Regions from separate parts of the Homo sapiens genome. Here regions 1, 2, 3, 4, 6 and 7 are each linked to region 5. The links come from fine-mapping of genetic effects on gene expression. A gene starts in region 5. Each other region holds a variant in brackets. All regions are shown on one strand. Distances are from middle to middle. Region 1 holds the start of GNA13 (G protein subunit alpha 13). Region 2 has its middle 23 kb from the start of MILR1. Region 3 has its middle 28 kb from the start of PECAM1. Region 4 overlaps PECAM1 (platelet and endothelial cell adhesion molecule 1). Region 5 holds the start of MILR1 (mast cell immunoglobulin like receptor 1). Region 6 overlaps SMURF2 (SMAD specific E3 ubiquitin protein ligase 2). Region 7 overlaps SMURF2 (SMAD specific E3 ubiquitin protein ligase 2).

Region 1 (4,000 bases), 610 kb before region 5:
ATTCTCCTGCCTCAGCCTCCCGAGTAGCTGGGACTACAAGCGCCCACCACCACTCCCCACTAATTTTTGTATTTTTAGTAGAGATGAAGTTTCGCCATGTTGGCCAGGCTGGTCTCGAACTCCTGGGCTCAAGTCATCTGCCTGCATCAGCCTCCCAAAGTGCTGGGATTACAGGCATGAGCTACTGTGCCCGGCCTTCTTTTTCTTTCTTTCTTCCTTCCTCCTTCCTCCTTCTTCTTCTTCTTCCTTCATTTGACTTTCAGGTCAAAGAGGTCTCTTTTTAAAAACTACACTGACTAGAACAGCCAGACTTGATGTGAGCCAAGTTTGTTCCAAGGCAAGCTTACACGCAGGGCTTTAAACAGCTTTCTCTGCTGCTCTGCATGTCACGACATGAACTGGCTGGGCAGGAATACCTTCCTGCCTCCTAGGCATTCTTGGTTTTCCATTATATTACACACACTTCTGAAAAAAGATGTTAACTACCTAACTTACAAGTTTCTCTCCTCTTTGTTGGAGTTCAGATTAGCACCTGGGGTCAATGCAGAAACAGTGCTCGGGGACAGGTTCTATGCCCCAATCCTGGGAGAGGCGAGTCCTTGCATGGTTAGAGAACAGGGCCTCCCAAACACTAGATGAGATGATGGAAAAATTCTCCATCCAGGGCAGGCTTTTACCATATATTTTGCCTGACAGCACTGCTCAGTGATTCTGACTCTTATCAATCCACAGATATTGGAGGTGAGCCTACTCTACTTGTATATTGTAGGTTGTCCACCCTCTGGGCTTGCCAGAGCCACAGGAGATAATCCTACTACAGGCATTGTTTACTGCAGCCAATCTACTGAGTCGAGGCTTCTCGGTCATTAACCCAACCCCAGGGAGTAACTGATTAGTACCGATTTTAAAATTTAAACCTGTTCGGGAGTTTCTTGGAATGCTGACCTCTTACCTCCGCTCCCTTATACATACGAAGTTTCTGAGCCACAGGAGCCCAAAGCTACGTTGCATTGCCCAAAACAGGGACAGACCAAAGTGGCTTTTTCCACTTGAAACTAAATACTAAGAATGAAGAGGTCGGCTCTCGGGGGTCCCGGTTAAGCAGTTTCTCTGCCAACCCACAGCTGTCACTTGTGGCTTGTCTCCTGGCCTCCTTTCAGGTGTCCTGGCCTGAATCTGCTGTTAGGACAGAAAAAAAGTCCCTGGACGGGTCATATCCTCTGTAATCTGGCAGGAAAGCTAAAATTTGCGTGCTCCCATTCCTCGTTGTGTTTGTGTATCTGCTTCCTTGTTGGGAAGAGCCTACATCACAGTGTCCGGTGTAGGGGATTTTCACCATGACCTCACCCTCCTGCTGCCACTCGCTAATTCCGGCGCGGCCAAGCGTCCCTGAAGTCACATCACAGCCCAGGTGGAATGCACGAGTGAGCCATTAAATGCCCCTGGTAGCACGTCTCAAGTGAACATCAACTCCAGTTCTTTCCCCTCACAGAGAGCCCTGGTAGGGGTCTGAAAATGCCAGAAAGAGCTGGAAGTGGGGGTGGACGACGTCTGGTTACCGTTCTGGGATTCGGAGACTAGAAGGTCAAGGGAGTCACTTTAAGAAAACACACCAGGCCTGGGCCTGGTGGCTCTGTCTGGAATCCCCGCACTGTGGGAGGCCGAGGCTAGAGGATCGCTTGAGCTCAGGAGTTCGAGACCAGCCTGGGCAACATAGGGGGGAGCCCCTGTATCTAAAAATAAATACAAAAAATTTAGCCGGGTATGATGGCACACGCCTGTACTCCCAGCTACTCGGGAGGCTGAGGCGGAAGGATGGCTTGAACCTGGGAGGCGGAGGTTGCAGTGAGTCGAGATCGAGCCAATGCACTCCAGCCTGGGCGACAGGGTGAGACTCCGTCTCAAAAGAGAAAAAATAAAATGAAATAAAGAAAATGCACCAAAGGCCTGCCAGGCTCACGCCGGCTGTTCTGTTCGAATAACTTTCGAGTCCGTGGCCTCGAAATGGGTCGGGTGGGCGGTGACAGCGGGCAGCGGGCGCGCAACGCGGGAGAAAGGGAGGCTAAGTGGGAGCCCAAAGAACCGCGTCCGGGACCTGGTCTCCGGCCTCCCGGCCTTGGGGAAGGAGCCCTTCTGCCCACAAGTGGGCTCAGGCCATGAAAGGGAAACAGAAAGTCGGGCTCCCCAGCCTGGCCCACGTGACCGCGGTTCCTCAGCCCTCCCCGCGCGCCCGGCCGCGGCTGCGGGCGCGGGCACCCGAGCGACACATCGAGCTCGTGACTCGCCGCCCAGGGCGGGAGGCGGAGAAGCGGCCGCGGCGTGCGAGCGCGCCTCCGGGAGGCAGCGGGAGCGCGCACGCTCCGGGGCCACCGCCCCTCCGGGGCCGGGCCCGCCCTC[C/GCCCTCC]TTCCCTCCCTCCCTCCCCCGCTGTCCTGGCCCGCCCTGCCCGGCCCGCCCTGCGAGTCAGTTCGCTGGTTCCCTCCCTCCCTGGGCGCGCTCGGGCCGCCGCCGCGCTCCCCGCCCTCGAGCCTCGGTGCCGGAGCCGCCCGCCGCCGGAGGAGGAGGTGGAGGGAGCCGGAGGGGCCCGCCGAGGCGGCGGCGGCGGCGGCAAGATGGCGGACTTCCTGCCGTCGCGGTCCGTGCTGTCCGTGTGCTTCCCCGGCTGCCTGCTGACGAGTGGCGAGGCCGAGCAGCAACGCAAGTCCAAGGAGATCGACAAATGCCTGTCTCGGGAAAAGACCTATGTGAAGCGGCTGGTGAAGATCCTGCTGCTGGGCGCGGGCGAGAGCGGCAAGTCCACCTTCCTGAAGCAGATGCGGATCATCCACGGGCAGGACTTCGACCAGCGCGCGCGCGAGGAGTTCCGCCCCACCATCTACAGCAACGTGATCAAAGGTGCCGGGCCGGGAATGGGGGCCGGGGGTTAAGGGCAGGGGGGCTGGGGCGGCGGCGGGTGCGGGGCGGGGCACCGCCCTGGTCCGCTGTGTCGCTGGCGAAGGAACGGGCCCGGCGGGCGGGCTGGCGGGAAGGGGGCGCGCCCCGGCAACTGGCCCTGCCCGCCCGGGGTGCCCTCGCGCCCCAGGGCGAGAGGATGCTCGGGGTCGCCCTGCTCTCCCGCTTGTCTCCCCGGTGGGCGTCACGGCCATTCCCCCACCCCCCACCGCGTCCTGGTCTCTCCCCCTGCGAGAGGGAAGTGGGGCGAGCTGGGTGCTGCCTCGGGGTGTGGGCAGACCTCTCCTGTCCTCCCCGCTGCGGATGAGGCAGGAACACCAATAGCAGCCCTAGCCGCTTCACCCCCATCCCCTGCTCGGGCGATGTGGGCCGAACCTCGCTACCCTGGCTGGGTGACCCGAGTCACATGGGGTCGCATGCGCTCCCAACTCCCTGCTTCCTTGGCCGTCTCCTAAGCAAGCGAGTTCTGGAACCGTCGCAATAAGGGAACTTTTTGCCCGAGACTTCTTGTCAAGGGCGTAGGGTGACAGCCTCCTTTTGGGCGAGAATATGAAACTTGAGGAGTGTCAGGTTGACTGTACTGGAATCAGGAGAGAGTGGACCCATACAGTTAGCATGAAAATGTAGCATCTGTGCTTTTTCGCCCCAGTGTCACGGTCAGGTAGGATGTTTGCGTGTGATTTCTGTGCAACACGTTCCACTCTCCTTTTCGCTAAGTAACTGGGGGCTGGCAGGAAGGGAGTACCACTGCTTCTATTTAGATGAAATGTAGTAGTAAGAAGACTGGCCTAAAAGTCATGTGGATCCTGTACAGATGGAGACAATGAATGAGTGTTGAGTTAGATAATTGGCTCGGCTCTTTATTGACAGTAGTTTTAAAATTAAACTTTGTTCTTAAGTGAAAAATAAACAAGTTGTTTATTTCTGGGCATTCAAAGAAATCGAAAAGATGGTTTTTATTTTGTCATTTGAAAGATAATTAACACTCGTTTCTGCGTGTCAAGTATGTTCTATAGAAAAGGCATTTTGGCAAAATTTAGGTGCAGCGCCTGGTAAC
Region 2 (4,078 bases), 23 kb before region 5:
ATTTGAGGTCAAGAGTTCAAGATCAGCCTGGCCAACACGGTGAAACCCCGTTTCTTCTACAAATACAAAAATTAACTGGGCATGGTGGCAGGCGCCTGTAATCCCAGCTACTTGGGAGTTTGAAGCAGGAGAATTGCTTGGACCTGGGAGGCAGAGATTGCAGTGAGCCAAGATCATGCCACTGCACTCCAGCCTGGGCAACAGGGTGAGACTCCATCTCCAAAATAATAATAATAATAACAAATGAAAAATAAATTATGAGTTCACACCAATATTTTCCACTCAAATTCAGGACTGCAGAGGGTCTGGGGTTTGTATGTCTGTTTTAATCAGTTTTATTAAGATACAATTTACATACAATAAATTTACCTCTTTTAAATGTACAAATTGATGAGTATTGACAAATGTATAACCATCTCCACAAAGGCAATGTAGAAAATTTTCATCACCCCTTAAAGTCCTTTTACACTTTTTTTTGAGACTGCCTCAGTAGTAACCACTGCTAAATTTATCAGAGAACTGCACACCTGGATTGTATTTTGACAGAACTTCCTTCCAACCCAATTGCTTTTAATAATTTTTTTATGATAAATTTTTACCCAAAATGTTATAGAATTTATTTACAAAGAAATTTCGTAAGTTGTATTTCTCCTACTGGTGTGGTATTATGCTAAGGAAACAGGTCTGGAGTCATGAAATCCTTAGGTGTCTAATTTTTCTAACCTGTAAGTTTCTGTGCTACTGCAGATCTCAGTTACTGTCTCTGGTGGTGGGTGTGTGCTGCGGAAGAGTCAGAGGTAAGGCACTAGTCCATTTCCTTCCAGGACAGTTGAGAAAGAAGGAAATGAACTCCAGTCATCACAAATCCACTGTTGATGATTCCTCTGGCCAGGTCTCCCCTTTAAATCCTTAGGGAGAAGCAACACTGAGAAAAGATAACTTCTTCTTTTTTTTTTTTTTTTGAGACGGAGCCTTCCTCTGTCGCCCAGGCTGGAGTGCAGTGGCGCGATCTGGGCTCACTGCAAGCTCCGCCTCCCGGGTTCACACAATTCTTCTGCCTCAGCCTCCCGAGTAGCTGGGACTACAGGTGCCCGCCACCTCGCCCGGCCAATGTTTTTGAATTTTTTAGTAGAGACGGGGTTTCATCGTGTTAGCCAGGATGGTCTTGATCTCCTGACCTTGTGATCCACCCGCCTCGGCCTCCCAAAGTGCTGGGATTACAGGCGTGAGCCACCACGCCCGGCCAAAAGACAACTTCTTTAGTTGTAATCCCCCATCCCTGAGAGTAGAAGAGGCAGAAGGCCAAAAAGTCGACCACACATGTTTGCAGCTCCTCATCCCAGCAAGATTTCTGTGCTGCCCTGGTGTTACCCTGCAGATGCCACCTTTTCCCAGTTTTCTACTGGATTATTGGTCTTTCTCTTAATGATTTGTAAAAGCTCATAATATTATGAAACTTCATACAATATCTGAGACCTGGGCTCAAAATACAGTCATGCTTCACCTAACAGTGGAGGTCACTGTTTGAACAGCATAGAGTGTACTCACACAAACCTAGATGGCATAGCCTGCTACA[C/T]GCCTAGGGTGTGTGGGATAGTCTATTCTTCCTAGGGATAAACCTGTACAGCATGCTACTGAACACTAGGCAATTGTAGCACAATGGTAAGTATTTGTGTATCTAAATGTGTCTAAACATAGAAAAGGTACAGTAAAAACACGGTATTATAGTTTTTTGGGACCCCATTTTATATTTGGTCCATGAATGACTGAAATGTTATTATGCAACACATCATGGTGTTTTCTCCCTAGTTATTCTTTTTTTTTTTTTTTTTTTTTTTTTTTTTTTTGAGATGGAGTCTTGCTCTGTCGCCCAGGCTGGAATGCAGTGGCGCGATCTTGGCTCACTGCAACCTCCACCTCCCAGGTTCAAGCAATTCTCATGCCTCAGCCTCCCCAGTAGCAGGGACTACAGGTATGTGCCACCACACCAACTAATTTTTGTATTTTTAGTAGAGACGGGGTTTCACCGTGTTGGACAGGCTGGTCTCAAACTCCCAACCTCAGGTGATCCACCTGCCCCATGGGATTACAGACGTGAGCCACTGCGCCCGGCCCCTAGTTATTCTTTGGATTTAGTTTATGATTTCTAAATGTAATTTTTAAATGTTTCATCTAATTAAATGATTTATCTAATTAAATTTAACAATCCTTTATGTTTTCTGGGTTGTGAGTCATACCTATAAAAGTCCTCCCCACTTCAAGATTATTTTTAAATCCCCTGCATATTCTTCTAGCTCTTCTGTGACTACATCTATCAGAATTAATTTTGTTGTAAAGAATGAGGTAGGAGTCCAACTTTTTTAATGTGATTCTCAAGTTTTTACAATATGTTGAATAATCCATCTTTTCCCCATTGATTTAAGATGCCATATTTATCCTATACTAAGTTCCTGTACATATTTAGAACTACATCTGGACTTTCCGTTCCATTGTTCTACTTGTTCAATCACATACAAATATGTTTGTAGAGACAGGGTTTCGCCAAGTTGCCCAGGCTAGTCTTGAACTCCTGGGCTCAAGCAATCCTTCTGCCTTGGCCTCCCAGGGTATTGGGATTATAGGCGTGAGCCACCACACCCACCCCTATTGTTGCCATTGTTCTAGTTGCTGTGATAGAGGAAATGTTGGGAGGTGGTGTATCTGCCACCTCTGTGTCCTGTGTCATATCCCTGGGCCTTCCCTCTGACCCAGCAGCATCTGAGGGTCTACTCACTTTGCACTGATAGTGTCTTGCTTCAATTGCACAATACACATGTTCACTTTCTGTCCTGGGGTGTTTGCAGTGCCTGGGGTGAGACACTGAGGTAAGCCTGCTTGGAATACCCACATGCTAGTCTAGAAGTGGGGGAGGTGTCGCTTTCTGGGGTGATCCTCAACCAGTGAGCGTTGGACACCAGTGGATAAATGCCTCTCACTATCAATCCTCAAGTGGACAATACTGAGAAGAGGCTCTTGGGCTCTTCAGAAGATTCCAGTGGGCTCATGTCCAGCTGCCCACCACAGTGCTCAACTCAGCAAAACACCCTGGTACTGGTTTTTCCCATGGCGCATTGGGCCTGCTTCCTAGGGCCACCTCCTACATAAATGATGTGCATAGAAGGCCTTATTTCAGGCTCTGCTTTCAGGTCTGGTCCAGGATAAAACAAGCGACCAGAAGTCCCTAGAAAGCAGCCTCAGGGAACAAAATTACCCCCTAGGGATGGATGGCAACAAGGACTCCCTTGCTGGTGATAGGTAGGCAGTGAGAACCCTTAGAACGCCACAGCTCCACAATTCCTAAGACCTTCCCCTGCCATGTGGAATGAGGTTTAGAAAGAAATGAGGCACTAGTGGACGCCAGCATTCCAGCACTTGAAAGGTTTGGGGCAATGCTAATTATGTGGATTGTGAAGTTAATTGGCTTCTCTTAGCTGCCTTAGAAGATTTGCAAGGAGAAAATGAGAGGCTACGGTTCAGGGCAAGCTGTGAAACCCTGATGACAGGGTTTAAGCCACTCTCATTTATCACAGCCAGCTGGAAGGCTGTGCTGAAAGCCAATTCCAGGATCTGATCGAAAGGGTGGGCCAACCATGGAGGAGATGGAGTGAGCACATCTAGCAGTTCTGCTCTGCTAACTTCTGACACTGACAGGGACGGGGTAGGCCTTGGGATGTGGACATTTGAGAATAAGAAACTCCCAATGCCCGCGAGCGCTCTTGAGAAGGAGAACAGCCCCTCTTATTAGAAGACCTCACATGAGGCAGGCGCTTCACAATATTTTTTAAATTATTGTGGTAAGTTATACATAACATAAAATTTTTTACCATTTTAACCAATTTTAGGTGTGTAATTCAATGGTATTAAAAACATTCATTCATATTGCCGGGCGCAATAGCTCATGCCTGTAATCCCAGCACTTTGGGAGGCCAAGGCAGGCCAATCATTTGAGGTCAGGAGTTTGAGACCAGCCTGGCCAACATGGTGAAACCTCATCTTTACTAAAAATACAAAAATTAGCTGGGCATGGTGGTGGGTGCCT
Region 3 (4,078 bases), 30 kb after region 5:
TTAGCTGCCAGCAGAAGTGACCTATCCTAAGAGATGATTTGTCAAGATTTTGTTAGTGGAGAGAAGACGATTCCAGAAAATCTGGGTGTTTACCACAGGCTGAGCACAAGGAAGGAAGGAAGGCTTTGGGTTTCCTTGTAGGGACAGGGGACAAGTAAGGGCTCTGGTGACTCTGTCTTGCTGTCTTGTATCCGGAATGGCCTGGGCTGCCGCCTGGGAGAATGCTGCACTCCCTAGGTCCCAAAGTGATGCCAGTGGACCTCCAGACCCCCTTCAGGGAAGGGGGTGCTGAGGATTCTGGGAAGACTACATCAGCTGACCTGAGTGAACTTGTTTCTTGTTTGTTTGTTTTGCTTGTTTGCTTGTTTGTTTGAGACAGGGTCTTGCTCTGTAGCCCAGGCTGGAGTGCAGTGGTGTGATCTTGGCTCACTGTAACCTCCATCTCCCAGGCTGAGGTGATCCTCCCACCTCAGCCTCCTGAGTAGATGAGCCTACAGGTGCGCACCACCACACCTGGCTAATTTTTTGTATTTATTGTAGAGTCAAGGTGTCACTGTATTGCTCAGGCTGGTCTTGAATTCCTGGGCTCACGTGATCCTTCCACACTAGCCTCCCAAAGTGCTGGGATTACAGGAGTGAGCCACTGCGCCTGGCCTCAACTTTTTAAATTTAATTTCAAGTGACTCAAAAGAAAAACAAGCGAAAATAAAAATAAAGTGTTAAGGCATAAACAGTTAATGGGCAGTCAGTTTCCTCCCTAGAGCTTTTGAAATTACAGACACTTGACAATGACGCCATCTAGTGGAAGGTTAGCAGGTCAGACGAAACCCATCTATTTCTCCTGATTCTTGCTCTGTCAGTCCACAGCTCTGAATAAGTGAGTTTTGCTGGCCATCCCAGGAGTGGACTAGCCCCAATTGTGGGGCATCAGCACCCAGGAACAACATCCTATGAATGGTCTTTCCTGCTTCTCTGAGTTTGCTGGGCTCTCCTCTGGTCTTTCAAGTTCCAAAGAGAAGAATCTAGCACTTACTGAGTACCTCCTGGTTAAAGGTCAGTTCATTAGATGGGCCAGCTGACTCCATTCTCATAATGACCCTGTGACGTGTTCTGTTTCACACATGAAAAAACCCAGCCTGGTCAACATGGCAAGTCCTCATCTCTACAAATAATTTAAAAACTAGTCAGATATGGTGGGGCATGCCTGTGGTCCCAGCTACTGGGGAGGCTGAGGCAGGAGGAGTGCTTGAGCCCCGGAGCTCAAGGCTGTAGTGAGGCGTGGTCACACCACTGCACTGCAGCCTGGGCAACAGAACAAGACCCTGTCAAAAATAAATAAATAAATAAAAAGGAAACTGTAACTATAAAGGTAGTCTGTCTCTTTGTAGGAAGGCTGAAAATACTTGTTTGTACATAGTGCTAGAAGAGCCTTACTGTTGGAATTTACAGAGGGAGAAGCTGAGATATTTGCTCAAAGTTGCTTGCTACTCAATGGGAATGGTGTTTGGGCTGAAACGCAAGTTTTTTGGGGGCAAAAAACTTGCGGTGAGCACTGTAGCCTCGACCTCCATGGCTCAGGTGATCCTCCTGCCTCAGCCTCCCCAGTAGCTGGGACTAAAGGCATACTTCATCATCACACCTGGCTAATTTTTTTTATTTGTGGAGACGAGGTCTTGCCGTGTTGCCCAGGCTGGTCTCCTGAACTCAAGCGATCCTCCCTCCTTGGCCTCCCAGAGTGCTGGGATTCCAGGCATGAGACACCATGCCTGGCCTACTTTATATATTTTCAATGTACTATTTCTGCATTACATATTTTATGTACTTTTTAATATCAATAGTATGTCTGTATTAGAAATAACAATGTAAAAGTGAAATAAGCACTGGGAGCGTCCAAAGCTATTTTAAAGGTGTTGGGGGTGGCCAGGTGCAGTGGCTCTCGCCTGTAATCCCAGCACCTTGGGAAGCTGAGGCGGGTGGATCGACTTGAGGCCAGGAGTTTGAGACCAGCTTGGGCAACATGGTAAAACCCCGTCTCTACTAAAAATACAAAAAGTTAGCTAGGCATGGTGGTGCACCCCTGTAATCCCAGGTACTTGGGAGGCTGAGGCACGAGAATCACTTGAAC[C/T]CACGAGGTGGAGGTTGCTCTGTCTCAAAAAAAAAAAAAAAAAGCGTTTAGGAGAAGCTGCGGCTGATAAATTACAAATAGATGGGTTTTCGTCTGACCTGCTAATCTTCCACTAGATGGCGTCATTGTCAAGTGTCTGTAATTTCAAAAGCGCTAGGGAGGAAAGACTGCCCATTAATTGTTTATGCCTTAACACTTTATTTTTATTTTCGCTTGTTTTTCTTTTGAGTCACTTGAAATTAAAGAAAAAAAAGCTGAGGCCAGGCACAGCGGCTCACTCCTGTAATCCCAGCACTTTGGGAGGCCAGTGAGGAAGGATCGCGTGAGCCCAGGAATTCAAGACTAGCCTGAGCAATATAGTGAGACCTCGTCTCTGCAAGAAATACAAAAAATTAGCCAGGTGTGGTGGCGCACACCTGTAGTCTCATCTACTCAGGAGGCTGAGGTGGGAGGATTACCTGAGCCTGGGAGATGAAGGTTACAGTGAGTACAGTGAGCCGAGATCACACCACTGCACTCCAGCCTGGGCTACAGAGCAAGACTCTGTCTCAAACAAACAAACAAACAAAACAAACAGACAAGAAACAAGTTGAAGTTCCCTTCAGAAATACCCTCCTGCTTCAAGCCTATAGAGGGTAAACCAAATGAGGTGCTCGTTAAAAGAATTTAGTCCTTACATGAAAAATACCATCAAATGTATGTAGAGTTTCTTTTAGTCCTGCAGAAATGCATACCTGATACCTTGATTATCACAGAGAAAAATGTTTTTGGCTACTTTAAAATGTTCCATAATTCTGAGCAGGCTGGCAGTCCTACCTTTTCACCATCAAAAACCCCCCATTATTTTTATTATGTATTTATTTATTTTATGTTTTGAGGCAGGGTCTCGCTCTGTTGCCCAGGCTGGAGTGCAGTGGCACAACCATGGCTCACTACAGCCTTGAACTCCAGGGCCTCATCCTCCCAACTCAGCCTCCCTAATAGCTGGGACTACAGGCATGCACCACCAAGCCCAGCTAATTGTTTTGTTTTGTTTTGTTTTGTTGTTTGTTTGTTTTAGTGATGGAGTCTCACTATGCTGCCCAGGCCAGTCTCAAACTCCTGGACTCATGTGATCCTCCTGCCTCTGCCTCCCAAAGTGTTGTGATTATAGGCATGAGCCAACACTCCTGGCCCCTTCATTATTTGTATTTTATAAATCTCATTATTGGGAATATTTTATCCAAAATAGCATTAACTAAGTAGTCAATGATTTTTCTATTTGTATTTATATGTATATTTGATTAATTAAAGTCCCCAGTAGATAAGGGACAACCTTGCTAAATTGATAAAACTCCATCCCTGCCGGGCGCAGTGACTAATTCCTGTAATCCCAGCACTTTGGGAGGCCAAGGCGGGTGGATCACTTGAGGTCAGGAGTTCGAGACCATCCTGGCCAACATGGTAAAACCCCATCTCTACTAAAAATACAAAAGTAAGCTGGGCATGGTGGCAGGTGCCTGTAATCCCAGCTACTCAGCAGGCTGAGGAAGAAAATTGCTTGAACCCAGGAGGTGGAGGTTGCAGTGAGCTGAGATCACACCACTGCACTCCAGCCTGGGTGACAGAGCAAGACTCTGTCTGTCTCAAAAAAAAAAGAGAGAGAGAGAGAGAATGCATCTCCTTCCTTCTTGAAATGCCCAGATTGCCGTGGTCATATCATTGATGAGCTAAGTAATGGGATTCTTGGGCTTATAAGTTTACAGTGGCTGAAGCCTCCACTGTATGGGGCAGTTTTTGTGAAATCCTCTAGTACCGGAATGGCACCATGGAAGTGGAAGGAATAGAGTGGAATGTCATTGAGTCTTCCTCATTCAAAAAAAAGAGCCCCTTTGCAGATATAGCTGTCCATATCCATGGGTTCCAGATTCATGGATTCAACCAACCGTGGATAGAAAATATTCAGAAAAAAAT
Region 4 (4,078 bases), 88 kb after region 5:
GCCTAATTTTTGTATTTTTATTTTTATTACTTTTATTTATTTATTTATTTATTTTTTTGAGATGCAGTCTCGCTCTGTCACCCAGGCTGGAGTGCAGTGGCACAATCTGGGCTCACTGCAAGCTCCGCCTCCTGGGTTCACGCCATTCTCCTGCCTCAGCCTCCCAAGTAGCTGGGACTACAGGCACCCGCAACCACGCCCGGATAATATTTTTTTGTATTTTTAGTAGAGATGGGGTTTCACCGTGTTAGCCAGGATGGTCTCCATCTCCTGACCTCGTGATCTGCCTGCCTCAGCCTCCCAAAGTCCTGGGATTACAGGCCTGAGCCACCACACCCGGCCAAGAATATCAAAATTCCATTTTTTAAATCTGTATCCTGGCTAACCCAAAAGGGTAAGACTTCCAGTGGACAGAATGTAGGTATTTGACCACCAGGAGCTGGGCTTCTCAGGCCTGAATGTGCATGCAAGACCTGGTTAAAATACAGGTTATGATTCAGTATTTTAGGCCCAGATGGGGCCAGGTTCTGCATCTCTAACTAGCATTTTGGTGATGTGGATGCTGTTGGTCTCTGGACCACACTTTGGGTGGCGAGATTCTGGTTGATTATAGAACTCCAGTCAAGTTGTCACTGTCACTATATTATTCAGTCACGATCCTTTCATTTAACCTGTGGCTGTGTTTTATCCAGCTAAGATTTTATTATAGCTTCAACTGAACCAGGATTTTAGCCTATTTTTAATGCTCTAACCACCTAACTCAAAAGGCAGGAATGCAAGAGACAAATGTGTGTTATAACGTTTTATTTTATTTTTTGTTCTTGGGAGGAGGAAATCTCATTGTATAAGGTTTAAATAAACTAATGCCTAAATAATGACCTAATATAATTCTTATCTGTTAAGAGGCTGAAGCACTAAGAAGACTTTTTTTATCTTTTTTTTTTTTTTTTTTTTTTGAGATGGAGTTTTGCTCTTGTTACCCAGGCTGGAGTGCAATGACATGATCTCGGCTCACTGCAACCTCTGCCTCCCGGGTTCAAGCGATTCTCCTGCCTCAGCCTCCCGAGTAGCTAGGATTACAGGCATGTGCCACCTTGCCCAGCTAATTTTGTATTTTCAGTAGAGACGGGGTTTCTCTACATTGGTCAGGCTGGTCTTAAAGTCCTGACCTCAGGTGATCTGCCCACCTCGGCCTCCCAAAGTGCTGGGATTACAGGCATGAGCCACCGTGACTGGCTGAGAATAATTTAAAAACATATATATTGGCTGGACCTGGTGGCTCACACCTGTAATCCCAACAATTTGGCAGGCCAAGGTGGGTGGATCACCTGAGGTCAGGAGTTTGAGGCCAGCCTGGCCAACATGGTGAAACCCCCTCTCTACTAAAAATACAAAAGTTAGCCGGGTGTGGTGGCACATGCCTGTAATCCCAGCTACTCGGGAGGCTGAGGCAGGAGAATCCCTTGGACCCAGGAGGTGGAGGTTGTGGTCAGCTGAGATTGCGCCATTGCACTCCAGCCTGGGTGACAGAGCAAGACTCGGTCTCAGAACACACACACACACACACACACACACACACATATATGCTCAGCCAGGTGTGGTGGCTCATACTTATAATCCCAGCACTTTGGGCAGCTGATGTGGGAGGATCACTTGAGTCCAGGAGTTCAAGACCAGCCTGAGCACATAGTGAGACCCTGTCTCTACAAAAAATAAAGAATTAGCCAGGTGTGGTGTGCACCTATAGTCCCAGCTACTCGGGAGGCTGAGGTAGGAGGATTGCTTGATTCTGGGAGGTTGTAGTGAGCTGTCATCGCACCAGTGCACTCCAGCCTGGGTAATAGAGTGAGACCCTGTCTCAAATACACACACACACACACACACACACACA[CACAT/T]TTTGTTGGCTACTTGTTGTACTTTTTCTATGTTTTCTGTGTCTTTGCTCAACACAAGAAAAGTATATTATGTGTGCATGTGCGTGTGAGATATGGTAAAATATGAACATGTATTTCTGGGGATGTAATGTTTTCCTTGAATTTCTGTCATTCTCTGTTTTGCTTATTGTACTTCTCTTTCCCTTTCCCTTCTCACCACACACACACACACACACACACACACACACACACAGCCTGTCAGTCTCATAGGTGTCCTATAAAGGTAAATAAGGCAGGCAGGCATTTGAAATTACAGCAGGGATAGAAAGCAAAGCTCAGGCTTTGGAGGAGGAACCTCTTGTGCTGGATGCTTTGCTTTTACCTTCAGTGCCTTTTGGATTGTTTCTCCCTCTGTTCTAGAAATGCTCTCCCAGCCCAGGATTTCTTATGATGCCCAGTTTGAGGTCATAAAAGGACAGACCATCGAAGTCCGTTGCGAATCGATCAGTGGAACTTTGCCTATTTCTTACCAACTTTTAAAAACAAGTAAAGTTTTGGAGAATAGTACCAAGAACTCAAATGATCCTGCGGTATTCAAAGACAACCCCACTGAAGACGTCGAATACCAGTGTGTTGCAGATAATTGCCATTCCCATGCCAAAATGTTAAGTGAGGTTCTGAGGGTGAAGGTGATAGGTAAGTTGCTGTGCTGTGAGAAGAAATCATGTGGGCTTGGGGCATTCTTTCACGCCCAGGGACTGTGGGAACAATAAGAGAAGTAGGGGGCCAGGTGCGGTGGCTCATGCCTGTAATCCCAGCACTTTAGGAGGCCAAGGCCGGTGAATCATTGAGGCCAGGAGTTCAAGACCAGCCTGGCCAACATGGTGAAACCCCATCTCTACTAAAAATACAAAAATTAGCTGGGCATGGTGGCGTGCGCCTATAATCCCAGCCACTCGGGAGGCTGAGGCAGGAGAATTGCTTGAACCCAGGAAGCAGAGGTTGCACTGAGCCAAGTTGCGCCATTGCACTCCAGCCTGAGCAACAAGAGCGAAACTCCATCTAAAAAAAAAAAAAGCGAGAGAAGTAGTGGGTGCTTATGCAAAGTCCATATACTAGATATGCACCAAAGCAGGGCCAAGGTTCAGTAAAGGAGGCTGGAAAATATTTGGGGGCTATTGATGAGGACAATGTAATCTCTTTCCAGAACCTTTCAACAAACTGCTAAAATATGATAAGCATGAAAGTGTCCTGACTGCAGGAAGCACTGAAGTTGTGCATATGGGCTCCCTTAGCACTTTCTCCTTTTCAGATACACTGTTCTGAGAATTGTAGATCAGGACTCTGCTGTTGTGACTCCTAGCCGGGCAACCCTGCCTTGTGTGAATTCTGCAGCAGTGAGAGCTACAGGCTGTGGTCTCATGGCAGTTACTAACATTTGCCTGGGATTCTCATCATACTCAAGAGAAATATACCATTGTCTTGGGGGTGGACAGTTTCCCTTAAGCCTCTATCTCATGCCTCTCAGAAGGCCTCAGGAGTGCCATTGCTTGCATGTCTTAGATATTTTGCATCCTGTTGTAAAAAGTTTAATAAGGCTTCCTCCTCTTTGTCCTTCTTGTTTAGTAACTGCCTATCTACATGGGCTGCTGGTGGATGTGAATAGGAGAGAGGGATTCCTGCTTCTATTCATGTATAGTCTAATAGTAGCCATACCTTTTCAATTAACATTAACATAGGCTGGTTGAGGTAGCTCACACCTGTAATCCTAGCGCTTTGGGAAGCTGAGGTGGGCGGATCACCTGAGGTCAGGAATTCGAGACCAGCCTGGCCAACATGGTGAAATCCTGTCTCTAATAAAAATACAAAAAATTAGCTGGGTGTGGTGGTGGGCACCTTTAATGCCAGCTACTCGGGAGGCTGAGGCACAAGAATCATTTGAACCTGGGAGGCAGAGGCTGCAGTGAGCCAATATCATTCCGCTACACTCCAGCCTGGGCAACGGAGCAAGACTCCATCTCAAAAAAAAAAAAAATTAACATTAACATAGACTAAGCACCTAATGGTGTGAGGCATACAAAAAAGAAGACATATTCTTTGTTTCAATGCTGTGGTAAGAAACACAAGCTCTCCTAATTAAATGATGGAGAAACATCTGAATCATAATACCAATAAGCATAGAAAAAATGTTAGGGGTCATGTTT
Region 5 (4,078 bases):
AAAAAGCAGGGCAATAAATAAGGATGGTTAAACGAATCATGGCTGAGTCTTAAAATACCATGCAGCTGTTGAAAAAGAGGAGCTAAGGCTGGTGTGGTAGCTCATGCCTGTAACCCCAGCACTTTGGGAGGCAGAGGCAGGAGGATCACGAGGTCAAGAGTTCAAGAACAGCCTGGCCAACATGATGACACCCCGTCTCTACCAAAAAACAATACAAAAATTACCCAGGCATGGTGGCACGTGCCTGTAATCCCAGCTACTCGGGAGGCTGAGGCAGGAGGATCCCTTGAACCCAGGAGGCGGAGGTTGCAGTGAGCCGAGATTGTGCCACTGTACTCCAGCCTGGGCAACAAGAGTGAAACTCTGTCTCAAAAACAAACAAACAAAAAAAGATAACGAATATAAAGTGACTGTTGATAACGGCTGCTTCTGGATAGGAAGGGGAGAAGAATTGGAGGAGGATTGTAACAGAACTTTTACATTTTATACAGTAACAACCACCACCTTGGCTATCACTTACGGATGGTTTACCATATGCCTGGCACTGTGACGAGGAGCAGGGATTGTCTCATTTGATCTGCACACTAGCCTACCAGGTAGGTGCTTTTATTAGCCCACTTCACAGATGAAATAAATTACAGTGTCTCACGCCTGTAATCCCAGCACTTTGGGAGGCCAAGGTGGGCGGATCACGAGGTCAGGAGATCGAGACCATCCTGGCTAACGATGTGAAACCCCGTCTCTACAAAAAATACAAAACATTAGCCAGGCTTGGTGGCACACGCCTGTAGTCCCAGCTACTCGGGAGGCTGAGGCAGGAGAATCACTTGAACCTGGGAGGCAGAGGTTGCAGTGAGCCGAGATTGCACCACTGACTCCAGCCTGGGCGACAGACTGAGACTCCATCTCAAAAAAAAAAAGAAAGAAAGAAAGAAAGAAAGAAATTAAGGTCAAACTGGGTATGTCATGAGCTCAGGCTGCTGGCTAGTAACTAGTAGAACCAGAGGTTAGACCACTTCCCAATGTATATTTCTAGTGTTGCTTGAATTATTTCACAATAATTCTGTGGGTTTTTTTATTTTGTTTTATTTTTTTAAGAAACGAGGTATCACTATGTTGTTCAGGCTGGTCTCAAACTCCTGAGCTCAAGCAATCCTACCCCATTAGCCTTCCAAAGTGCTGCGATTACAGGCCGGAGGCACCACACCCAGCCTGTGTGTTGGCTTTCTAGTTAAAACACAACAACCATAAAACAACAATAACAAGGAAAGTTAGAAAACTTTCATTGTGAAAACAAATTTCATTATTTTTCTCACTGAGTCTCAGAAAAAAATGCTGCAATCCCCTCCCTAAAATCATTTTATTTTAAATGATAGATAATTGAAAAGACTGTTCTTTGGTTGTTCATAAAAGCTCAGAAACACTTTTGAATGGACGCTTATGTTGCAATCAGACTGTCTCACCACTTCAGTGAAAATGGTTTCAATAAGAAAGAAGTAAATGAAACTTACCATTTGTTTTCATTGCCTCACAATCCAATACAGCTTTTCTACCTGAAACAGAAAAGGAACACGATAAAGCTCACTTTCCACATGACACGTTGGCTTGGAGGTTCGAGCCTCAGAATGATAAGGGGGGCTTACAAGTGACAGAAGAAAATATGCTCCAGAAGAGGAGCCTGTTCAAATGGCTCCACATTCTCCCAGTTGAAGTCCAAGACGGGGTCAGAAGGCATAGTAGAACCACAGTGGTGAGTAACTCGGAGAACTTCCTCTTTTTCTTAGCCAAGTTAAGGAAATCAGAGGGTTTGGATGAGGTTTGCATAATACTGGTTTGTTCGACCAATCTGTCTTCCTCTGTGAGTTCCTGTAAGAAGAGAGATATTTGGTAGATTGCCACTCCCCCGCCCCCCCCACCCCCCCACACCCCCACATCGTCCCATGCTGGCTGGGAAAGAGAAGAGGTAAATCTGACTGTTACATTGTCTATGTAAACCCATCTGATCTCCTTGCTCTGGACTCAGTCTATGCCAAAAGGAGTTTGGTGGAAGTTTGATTTAGTCTTTGGAAGCAAACCGACTGTCTTAAGCAGATACATACAAATATTGTATCAAAAATGCCTGCTTTTTTTTTTTGAGACTGGCCTCACTCTGTCACCCAGGTTGGAGTGGAGTGCTGTGATCATAGCTCATTGCAGCCTCAAACTCCTGGGCTCAAGTGCTCGTCCCACCTCAGGCTCCTGAGTAGCTGGGACCACAGGTGTGCACCATCAGGACTGGCTAATTATTTTTATTTGTAAAGACAGGGGTCTAGTTGCCCAGGCTGGTGTTAAACTCCTGAGCTCAAGTGATCCTCCCGCCTCAGCCTCCCAAAGTGCTGGGATTACAGGTGTGAGCTACTGTGCCTGGCCAAAAATGCCTGCTTTTGTTAAACGTTGATTCCTAGACCCCACTCCAGACTTACTGGGTTTCAAGTCCAGGACGCTGATTTTTTTTTTTTTAAACAAGGGCCCTGAGCAATTCTTACGCACAGTGAAGGCTGAGAAATATCTGTACAAGGTGCTGCTGCCTCAGTGATTTCTGAATCAAGGGAGCCTTGGGGACTTGATATTACGGCAAGCCCTCCAGTGCCAGGAGATCTGAAGTAGGAGTTACCTTAGATCAGCCTTTGAAATAGAACGTGCAGGCTGGGTGCGGTGGCTCATGCCTGTAATCCTAGCACTTCGGAAGGCTGAGGCAGGCGGATCACCCGAGGTCAGGAGTTTGACACCAGCCTGGCCAACACAGCGAAATCCCATCACTAGTAAAAATACAAAAAACTTAACTGGGTGTGGTGATGCGTGCCTATAATTCCAGCTACTTGAGGGGCTGAGGCAGAAGAATCGTTTGAACCCGGGAGGTGGAGGTTGCAGTGAGCCAAGATTGCACCACTGCACTCCAGCCTGGGTGATAGAGCAAAACTCTGTCTCAAAAAAAAAAAAAAAAAGTCAGTTGAAATAGAATGTGCAGAGCCACTTCTTGATGGAGTGGAGATCACCAAAAGGATAGAAAGGTATGACTATAGGGCTAGGTGGGCAAGACAGCTGGTTGACACTTGCAAGAATTGACAGGTCCACCAAGAGAGGAAGCAAGGAGTTGAATGGCTGGGGCAGCCTTGAGCTGGGACATTCATCTCTGTACCTTAGGTCCCAAGATGTAACCAAATCCTTCCTTATTGACTCAGCGTCACCTAGCTAGCATCCTCTAGCTAGGAGGTTTGATACTGAATCTTGCTCTGTCTCCCAAGCTAGAGCACAGTGGCACCATCTTGGCTCACTGCAATCTCCACTTACCAGAATCAAACTATCTTTCCACCTCAGCCTCTCTAGTAGCTGGGACCACAGGCACAAACCACCATACACTACTAGGTTTTTAACTTTTTTATAGAGATGAAGTCTCACTATATTGCCCAGGCTGGTTTTGAACTCCTGGGCTCAAGCGATTCTCCTGCGTGTGGCCTCCAAAAGTGCTAGGATTACAAGCATGAACCACCATGCCCCACCCTTACTACAACAACTTTACAGCACTTTATAAAAGTTTGGATGGGTGAACTGTCAGATACATGTGCAAAATTCCATCAACTTTTTCTTTTCTTCACGTCTGCAATGTTTTTCATCAGCATCCTGTCACTTTTTGGCTACCACTGCTGGCCAGCTGGAAAAGAACAGACAACCATAGAATCATTCCCCGCACCCACATTTTCTTTCTCTCTCTTTTTTTTTTTTTTTTTTTGAGATGGAGTCTCGCTCTGTTGCCCAGGCTGGAGTGCAGTGGCGCTATCTCGGCTCACTGAAACCTCCACCTCCTGGGTTCAAGGGATTCTCCTGCCTCACCCTCCCAAGTAACTGGGATTACAGGTACGTGCCACCACACCTGGCTAAATTGTGTATTTTTAGTAGAGACGGGATTTCACCCCATTGGCCAGGCTGGTCTCGAACTCCTGACCTCAGGTGATCTGCCTGCCTCGGCCTCCCGAAGTTGTGGGATTACAGGCGTGAGCCACTACCCCCGGCTCCACATTTTCATATAGACCCATGGAAA
Region 6 (4,078 bases), 120 kb before region 5:
ATAAGCTGTTAGTTTTTAAAAAGTAGTGGGGGCCGGGCTCGGTGGCTCACACCTGTAATCCCAGCACTTTGGGAGGCTGAGGCAGGAGGATCACTTGAAGTCAGGAATTTGAGACCAGCCTGGCCAACATGGTGAAAACCCGTCTCTACTAAAAATACAAAATTAGCCAGGCATGGTGGCATGTGCCTGTAATCCCAGCTACTCAGGAGGCTGAAGAAGAAGAATTGCTTGAACCTGGGAGGTGGAGGTTGTGGTGAGCCGAGATCGCACCGTGGCACTCCAGCCTCGGCAACAGAGCAAGACCCCATCTCTAAAAAAATAAATAGATAAAAAGTAGTGGGGAGGAAATTTTACTTTTTTTTTTTTAAGCTTACTAAAAAAAGAAAAAAAAAATCCAAGGGCCTAACTTTTCAAAATCAGTTTTATTATATAAATTGTAAAAAGCTTTTTGGATTCTGTTTATCTAGTTGAAGGTCAATAATAAGCTTTTCTTTAAATTAATTAGAAATTACTTGTAGGAAATGTATAGAATAACAATGATCATTTTTTTTAACTAAATGATTTACAATAGTGAGAAAGTTGACCTTGAGTTACATGTTGAAAGAATAGTATGTAAGCTGGCAACAGAAATTGAAATTGAGACAGATTTCAGCACCACTGTTGGTAACAGGCTCTTATTCCAGAGGAAACATGTCAGTTTTTTATTAGTGAGTAAAGGATTTCTGCGAAGCTTTAAGAATATCTCATGTTGAGTATTGACATGTATTTTGAATGATGATTTTATGAAATAACACTTGGGATTATTTTTCTTATTCTGTATCCCCCAAATTACCTTAAAAACTTACATCTTTTGTTTTGGAGGATCCTTTAGCAAATATGCCTTTTGTATGGAAGATCTTTTATGAAAGTATACTATAAATATTTAGTTTCTATTACAATATCACTATTCGAAGATATTTATAAAATTGCAAAGTCAGACTCTTTAAAACAAACTTTATTTAAAGATATCCAGGATACCTAGATTTATCCAAGAAATCTCATTTCATCATGTTTTGCATTTCTCTTTAAAACAATGGTTAATGCCTTGTTATTTGTTATATTGCATACTGAGTGACTGTAGTCTTGAAATACAGATCTGTGTTACTTTGTATGACTGTATAACATTCCATTTTTCTTTAACCAGCTCCCAGTGAGACATAAAGATTATTTCTAGTGTTTTGCTCTTTTAATCAGTGCTTTAGCACTCTCCCGTGTATGACTGTAGATTTATAAAATTCTAAATAAAATGACATGAAATGAAATTCTACATTTTATCAGTAGAATTGTTCATTTTTTATTTTAATTTTTTTTTTAACTTTTAGGTTCAGGGGTACATGTGCAGGTTTGTTATAGGTAAACTTGTGTCATGAGGGTTTGTTGTACAGATGATTCTGTCACCCAGATACTAAGCCTAGTACCCATTCGTTATTTTTGCTGATCCTCTCCCTTCTTCCACCTTCCACCCTCTGATAGGCCATAGTACCTGTTGTTCCTCTCCATGTGTCCATGTGTTCCCATCATTTAGCTCCTACTTATAAGTGAGAACATGCAATATTTGGTTTTCTGTTCCTGCTTTAGTTTGCTAAGGATAATGTCCTCCAGCTCCTGTTTTTCATTTCTAAACCATTAAAAATCTATTTGGGGCCGGTGCAGTGGCTCATGCCTATAATCCCAGCACTTTGGGAGGCTGAATTTGGGAGGCTGAACTCCCTGAGTTCTCAGCTTGGGGAGGAAGCTTCAGGTTTCCTATCCCAGTCTTGCTGCTGGCCTGCCCTTCTGCCTACCTGCCACTCAGGTACCATCTTTACTCAGTCCCCCGAAC[T/G]CCCTTTTTTTTAAAATTTGAGGAGAATTCTTGGAACTTTCCCTTGCCTCTTTTGAGACTAGCAGTGTTTCAAATGGTGTTTTTTCCTACACTTTAGCTGTTCTGTAGCAGGAGTCTCTTGGAACACCTATAGCAGAAGTCAGAATGATTGCTTTGGCAAATATAGGTCCCTGTGTGCCCATCATTGGTTTCACTGTGACTAAGGAGAAGTCATCTCAGGAAAAACATTTTTCTAGTATAACTTTTAAAATGTGGTTTTGATGAAATTTGTGATTACTTATAATTATCTGTTACAATTTAAATTTACATAAACATGCTGCTTTTATCTTCTCCTCCTCCTCCTCCCCCTCCTCCTCCTCCTCCTCCTCCCCTCCTCCTCCTCCTCCCCTCCTCCTCCTCCCCTCCTCCTCCCCTCCTCCTCCCCCTCCTCCTCCTCCTCCTCCCCCTCCTCCTCCTCCCCCTCCTCCTCCTCCTCCTCCTCCTCCTCCTCCTCCTCTTTTTTTTAATAAAAAGAGGACCACAAAAACAGTTTTACTATCTAGATGCTTGAGTTTGCTTGGTCACTTTCAGAGTATGTCGTTTCTTTGGTATTTACACATGGCTCTGGTAACCTAAAGTATTCATTTAAGGCAGGAAATGACCTGATCATATCATACATTGTTACACGCAGTCTCAATTATGTCACCAAGGGCAGTGACTTTTCTCTTCTGGTGGATGACAACAGCAATTTCCACACTTTGGAAGCTTCACTGAAATATTTTTTTCTAACAGTGTAGAGGATAAGAATTTGCAGTTCTATTGCCAGTTTATTACAGAGGCTACAACTCTGGAACAGCCAAATGGAAGCAATGCTTAGGACACAGTATGGGGGGAGGGCAAGGAGCTACCATGCCCTCTCTGGGCAGGCCACCGTCCAGTACCTCAGTGTGTTCACCAACCTGGAAGCTCCTTAACTCATTCTTTAAGGCCCTATTAATCCTTCTCTATATATACTAGTATTTTAAGAATGTATAATATAATAGCAATAGTCTTTGGTCCATTAAAAATCTTAGCTTTTCTTATTGCAGTGGTAACCCTTAGAGCACTCTTGGTAATGTATCTTAAACAGGTTCTTCATTGACTAACTTTACAGATTTTAGAATTGCAGTTTATTCTTTAAAAATATGCTGTGATTATTTTCAGGATCATAATTTCAGTAACATTTCCAGTTTTGCTTTGTTGGCGAGCTTAAAATTATGGAATGGACATTTTATGCAAATTTTATGGTATAGTAAAGAAATGAAGGGACATTTTAGAAAGCATTTAATTCTTTATGTCACTGACACTTGTAAAATTACTTCCTGTCAAACACGTGTTGAAATACAGTTTATGTTGGCAAATATTGGGATTGATTTTATATTAATTTAAATCTGTATTACATTAAAGCCTAGGAAATTACTAAAAAATGTAGGCTATGTGATAAGTTTTTCTGAGCCATTTATGGATTGGGCTTTGAAGATGAAAGTTTGTTAAACCATTGGGAATTAAAGATTCCAGCTGAACATCTCAAGTTTCTGAAACAATACATTTTCTCACACTTTGTGGAATTGTTCTGTGTCATTTACACTTGCTTGGTTCAGCAGGGCGAGCAATGAGGTATTTTTTATTTTATATTTGTTTTTGCAGGGATCTTAGCAACATCAATTGTGAAGAGCTTGGTCCATTGCCTCCTGGATGGGAGATCCGTAATACGGCAACAGGCAGAGTTTATTTCGTTGACCATAACAACAGAACAACACAATTTACAGATCCTCGGCTGTCTGCTAACTTGCATTTAGTTTTAAAGTAAGTTTTTGAAACAATACATGTTAAAATGGGAGTTAAACATGATGAAACGCATAGATGCTTTTAATAATAAATGTGAGTCTCGATACAGTGGCTCACGCCTTTAATCCCAGTGCTTTGGGAGGCCGTGGCAGCAGGATCACTTGAGGCCAGGGGTTTGAGACTAGCCTGGTCAATATAGTGAGACCTCATCTCTACAAAAAAAAAGTTGTTTAAATTAAAAAATTAGCTGGGTGTGGTGGTGTATGCCTGCAGTCCTAGCTACTTGGGAAACTGAGGCAGGAGAATCGCCTGAGCCCAGGAGTTTGAGGCTGCAGTGGACTATGATCACACCACCCCAACTCCAGCCTGGGTGACAGATGGAGACCCTGTCTCTTAAAAAATGAAAGAACA
Region 7 (4,074 bases), 100 kb before region 5:
CTGGATTCAAGTGATTCTCCTGCCTCAGCCTCCCAAGTAGCTGGGACTACAGGCACCTGCCACCACGTCCAGCTAATTTTTGTATTTTTAGTAGAAACGGGGTTTCACCATGTTGGCCAGGCTGGCCTGGGACTCCTGACCTCAAATAATCCACCCACCTCGGCCTTCCACAGTGCTGGGATTACAGGTGTGAGCCACCGCACCTGGCCTCTAAATGTCTTTAGATTAACGGCCATACTAAACAGTGAATAGTTTTTTGTTTCCTTTTAAAGCTGGCCCTTAAACACCCCAGGTTTTGTAATTAAGACCTTAAACAAATGCATCTGAATTTCCTACTGAACAACTAAAAAACACGAGGTTTAATTCTATTAAAGGTCCCAAATTTATTTAGTAGTTAGGGATAACACAAATATTTGAAGTCTACTAATAATTTGAAACATGATTTTATTCAATGCCTTCAATGTCCTTTCTAAATAAATCTGTTAATAGACCTGTTAGCAAACAAATCTAAAAAGGTTGGTTTTACTTAATACTCTCCCCATTCCTTTTGTGATTGAATTGTTCATAGTGAAATAGCCAGAAGGAAGTAGTTAGAAGGAGAACATAGCAGGAATGCCGATAAGGTTGAAATATAATGCATTTTCATCTCTTTATACAATAAACGAGGATTTGGCCTTCTAACTGCCATTCCTCTGAAGAAAAGAATTTAGGAGGTGTCTTTTATGTCATTAAATACACCCATAATCCTTTTCGGATAACCTCCTCCCTGTTCAGTGTGGTGTTAATTCAGTGAACCCTGTAGAAGCTTTGTTGGAGATTTTATTTCAGAACCCCATAGAAGCCTTACTGGAGACTTTATTTGGTAGGGTTAGGATTTTTAATATAGTTTCTACTGCTAATGGGTCATGAAACTTTGTTTTTCTTCTCTTTTTTCTTTTTTTTATTTGTGGAGACAGAATCTCACTCTGTCACCCAGGCTGGAGTACAGTGGCACAATCTCCACTTACCGCAACCTCTGCCTCCCAGGTTTTCAAGCGATTCTCGTGCCTCAGCCTCCTGAGTAACTGGGACTTCAGGTGTGCACCACCATGCCTGGCTAATTTTTGTATTTTTAGTAGAGATGGGGTTTCACCATGTTGCCCAGGCCGGTCTTGAACTTTTTAGCTCAGGCAATCCACCTGCCTCTGCTTCCCAAATTGTTAGGATTACAGGCGTGAGCCACTGCACCAGGCCTGAATCATTAAACTTTTTATTTTTATTTTTTGAGATAGAGTCTCACTCTGTTGCCTAGGCTGGAGTGCAGTACCATGATCCTAGCTCACTGTTAACTCTTATGCTGAAGTGATCCTCCTACCTCAGTCTCCCCAGTAACTGGTACTACAGGTGTGCACCACCACGCCTGGCTAACATTATTTTGGCTTTTTTTTTTTTTTTTTTTTTTTTTGGAGACACAGTCTCACTTGTCCCCCAGGCTGATGGGATCTCAGCTCCCTACAACCTCTACTTCCTGGGTTCAAGCGATTCTCATGCCTTACCTGGGATTACAGGTGCCCGCCACCACGCCCGGCTACCTTTTTGTATTTTTAGTAGATACAGGGTTTCGCCATGTTGGCCAGGCTGGTCTTGAACTCCTGACCTCAAGTGATCTGCATGCCTCGTCCTCCCAAAGTGCTAGGATTACAGGCGTGAGCTACCACACCCTACCAATTTTTAAAGACAATATGTATAACATTTATTTTAGCATTGTATATATTAATCCTGGGTGTAATTCTATAAAATACAGGATTTGCAAGTTATGTTTTATAGTATACATGGAATTCACTGCTATAAACAAACATGTTAGATTAGTATGGTGAGTTAGTCTTGAACCCTAGGGAGACATATTAAT[G/A]ATAGTATAAAATGATTTGGATATAGTTCATCTGTGTGACCCTCCATCAGGATGTGTTTAGCAGAGGTCTGTATCAATGTGCTCATGTATTTTGTGCTTTAATATCAATTTAATATTATTAAGCAAATGTAGGCCAGGTGTAGTGGCTCACACCTATAATCCTAGCACTTTGGGAGGCTGAGGCAGGCGGATCACTTGAGGCCAGGAGTTGGAGACCAGCCTGGCCAACATGGCGGAATCTCATCTCTACTAAAAATACAAAAATTAGCTGGGCATTGTGGTGCATGCCTGTAATCCCAGCTACTTGGGAGGCTAAGGCAGGAGAATCACTTGAACCCGGGAGGCAGAGGTTGCAGTGAGCCTAGATCATGCCACTGCACTCCAGCCTAGGAGACAGAGCAAAATTCTGTCTTAAAAAAAAAAAATTATTAAGCAAATTGTATGACTCACTTATTCAACACCCATTTCTGAAGTTTCTGTGCATTATCGGTTGCTTCCCCAGGATGTAGTGAAATGGATGTTACTACCATATTACAGCAGAGGAATTGATTGAATTGCCCTCAATCAACAAAGCTAATAGGTATTGAAACTAGTAGATGATGCAGGTCCAAAGAAGGCACATATCTGTATTTACTCTTTGGGTCTCAATTTCTGTCCATTTTTTTTAAAGCTTTATAATTTTATTATGAACTTATGAAACATTCTCAATTGTTTACCTGGTCAAGTCTATCACAGCTGTGGTTCTCAGACCCTGGAGAGGGAGTTTGCAGTGAGTAGATATCTCTGGAGCTTTTTAAAATATAGATCCCAACTGTCACCCCAGGTGCACAGAATTAACATCTCTGAGCCTAGGACCTGGAATGTCAATTTGAAAAGCTTTTCAGATGATTCTGATGTGCATCTTTAATTAGGAACCACCAAATGACAGCCAGCAGTACAAACCTAAAGTTCTCTTTTGAGGAATTTTTGGTCTGGCTGTGGTTTCCACAGGTTCATTACTGTGTACTATTTTCACAGCTCATTATTTGTGGACTTGGAAAGATAGATGTTAATGACTGGAAGGTAAACACCCGGTTAAAACACTGTACACCAGACAGCAACATTGTCAAATGGTTCTGGAAAGCTGTGGAGTTTTTTGATGAAGAGCGACGAGCAAGATTGCTTCAGTTTGTGACAGGATCCTCTCGAGTGCCTCTGCAGGGCTTCAAAGCATTGCAAGGTAACAGCCTGAGGTGCAGGCAAGCTGGGCAGCGGGTGGGGGCGGGGCTGTCAGCGTGGGGTCTGTGGAGATATTTTGTAAACCATGTGCTTAGAGATTCTCTTTTTCACTTCTTATCTGTGACTCTCACATTGTGATACCTTCTTCTCCCTCCTTTCTTTTGTTCCCTTCCCAAGAGCCTTTTCTGCGGGCTTCTCTGATTGTAGTGAGTGCCGCATGCTAGAGACCGTACGTGGTGATGCTCTGCCTTTGTTTTCTGGTCACCTTACTTTTAATTCTGTTGCACATTCCTGTAGGGAAGTCGTTCACTTCCATGTTCACATCTTGACCTGGTGAAACGTTTACCTGCCTGGGATGCCTCTCCCCTCTACTTTTCGTTCTTTCTCTTATTAGACAGAAGCAGCATGGGTCATGGAAACCATCTGTTCGGTCAGAGCATTTTAATTACTGCATGGCATCAGACCATTTGTTTACAACCATATTCCTTTTTTAAGAATGGTTTTCTGTGGAATAAGCTGGTTAATTTTGGGAGGAGCTGGTAATATTGCTAATGATTGTGGTGCTTCACTGGGTGGCAGTTGCTTCCTTTACCTCTTAAGCACTTCATTTTCAAAGCTGCTGGTGATGAATAAGGACACACAAAGCGACACTGGTACATAATTCGACAGTGCTGCCCACAGCGCATGCGCTGAAATCCCTGGGGGGAGAGCGTGCTTTCAGCTGTGCTGCCCTTCTCTGTAAGGAGAGCTCCTCATCCTCACACTTCCCAGATGCATAAAGTGAAGTTGTATTTCTGCTACATGTATTTATATGGGGTGCCTGTGCGAACTGAAATGGATTCTATAGACGGCTCTTTTGCTGTCAGCCCAGTTTGAGTCATGAAATCTAAATTTGCATCAGGTCGTCATCTTTTTGAATGTGTGCCTATGTATTTTACCTTGGATTTGCCTGATTACTTTTCTTCTCA

Evidence for each region.
Region 1: its variant is fine-mapped to the expression of MILR1 in whole blood (INTERVAL, PIP 0.97).
Region 2: its variant is fine-mapped to the expression of MILR1 in whole blood (INTERVAL, PIP above 0.99).
Region 3: its variant is fine-mapped to the expression of MILR1 in esophagus muscle (GTEx, PIP above 0.99).
Region 4: its variant is fine-mapped to the expression of MILR1 in whole blood (INTERVAL, PIP 0.90).
Region 6: its variant is fine-mapped to the expression of MILR1 in whole blood (INTERVAL, PIP above 0.99). The same link has a PIP of 0.9 or more in subcutaneous fat.
Region 7: its variant is fine-mapped to the expression of MILR1 in whole blood (INTERVAL, PIP above 0.99).

Annotation. Positions count from the first base shown.
Region 1 is chr17:65,055,197-65,059,196 of GRCh38, reverse strand. GNA13 (G protein subunit alpha 13) reads left to right here and starts at 2,457. Exons shown (of 4, transcript NM_006572.6): 1 at 2,457-2,886. The coding sequence starts at 2,604. RefSeq lists silencers at 2,170-2,679, 2,960-3,219. The variant C/GCCCTCC (reference allele first, on the strand shown) is at 2,398.
Region 2 is chr17:64,470,235-64,474,312 of GRCh38, reverse strand. It overlaps a transcript of MILR1 not described here. Among named protein-coding and RNA genes, the nearest start is that of MILR1, 23 kb to the right of the region's middle. RefSeq lists an enhancer at 623-1,123. The variant C/T (reference allele first, on the strand shown) is at 1,577.
Region 3 is chr17:64,417,086-64,421,163 of GRCh38, reverse strand. No RefSeq gene overlaps it. Among named protein-coding and RNA genes, the nearest start is that of PECAM1, 28 kb to the right of the region's middle. The variant C/T (reference allele first, on the strand shown) is at 2,126.
Region 4 is chr17:64,358,632-64,362,709 of GRCh38, reverse strand. PECAM1 (platelet and endothelial cell adhesion molecule 1) reads left to right here. Exons shown (of 16, transcript NM_000442.5): 7 at 2,295-2,570. Among named protein-coding and RNA genes, the nearest start is that of PECAM1, 30 kb to the left of the region's middle. The variant CACAT/T (reference allele first, on the strand shown) is at 1,892.
Region 5 is chr17:64,446,789-64,450,866 of GRCh38, reverse strand. It overlaps MILR1 (mast cell immunoglobulin like receptor 1), which reads right to left and starts at 1,752. Exons shown (of 10, transcript NM_001085423.2): 1 at 1,644-1,752; 2 at 1,512-1,553. The coding sequence starts at 1,698. RefSeq lists a silencer at 1,840-1,889.
Region 6 is chr17:64,571,405-64,575,482 of GRCh38, reverse strand. SMURF2 (SMAD specific E3 ubiquitin protein ligase 2) reads left to right here. Exons shown (of 19, transcript NM_022739.4): 10 at 3,527-3,685. Among named protein-coding and RNA genes, the nearest start is that of CEP95, 66 kb to the right of the region's middle. The variant T/G (reference allele first, on the strand shown) is at 1,862.
Region 7 is chr17:64,546,633-64,550,706 of GRCh38, reverse strand. SMURF2 (SMAD specific E3 ubiquitin protein ligase 2) reads left to right here. Exons shown (of 19, transcript NM_022739.4): 17 at 2,906-3,107. Among named protein-coding and RNA genes, the nearest start is that of CEP95, 42 kb to the right of the region's middle. The variant G/A (reference allele first, on the strand shown) is at 1,889.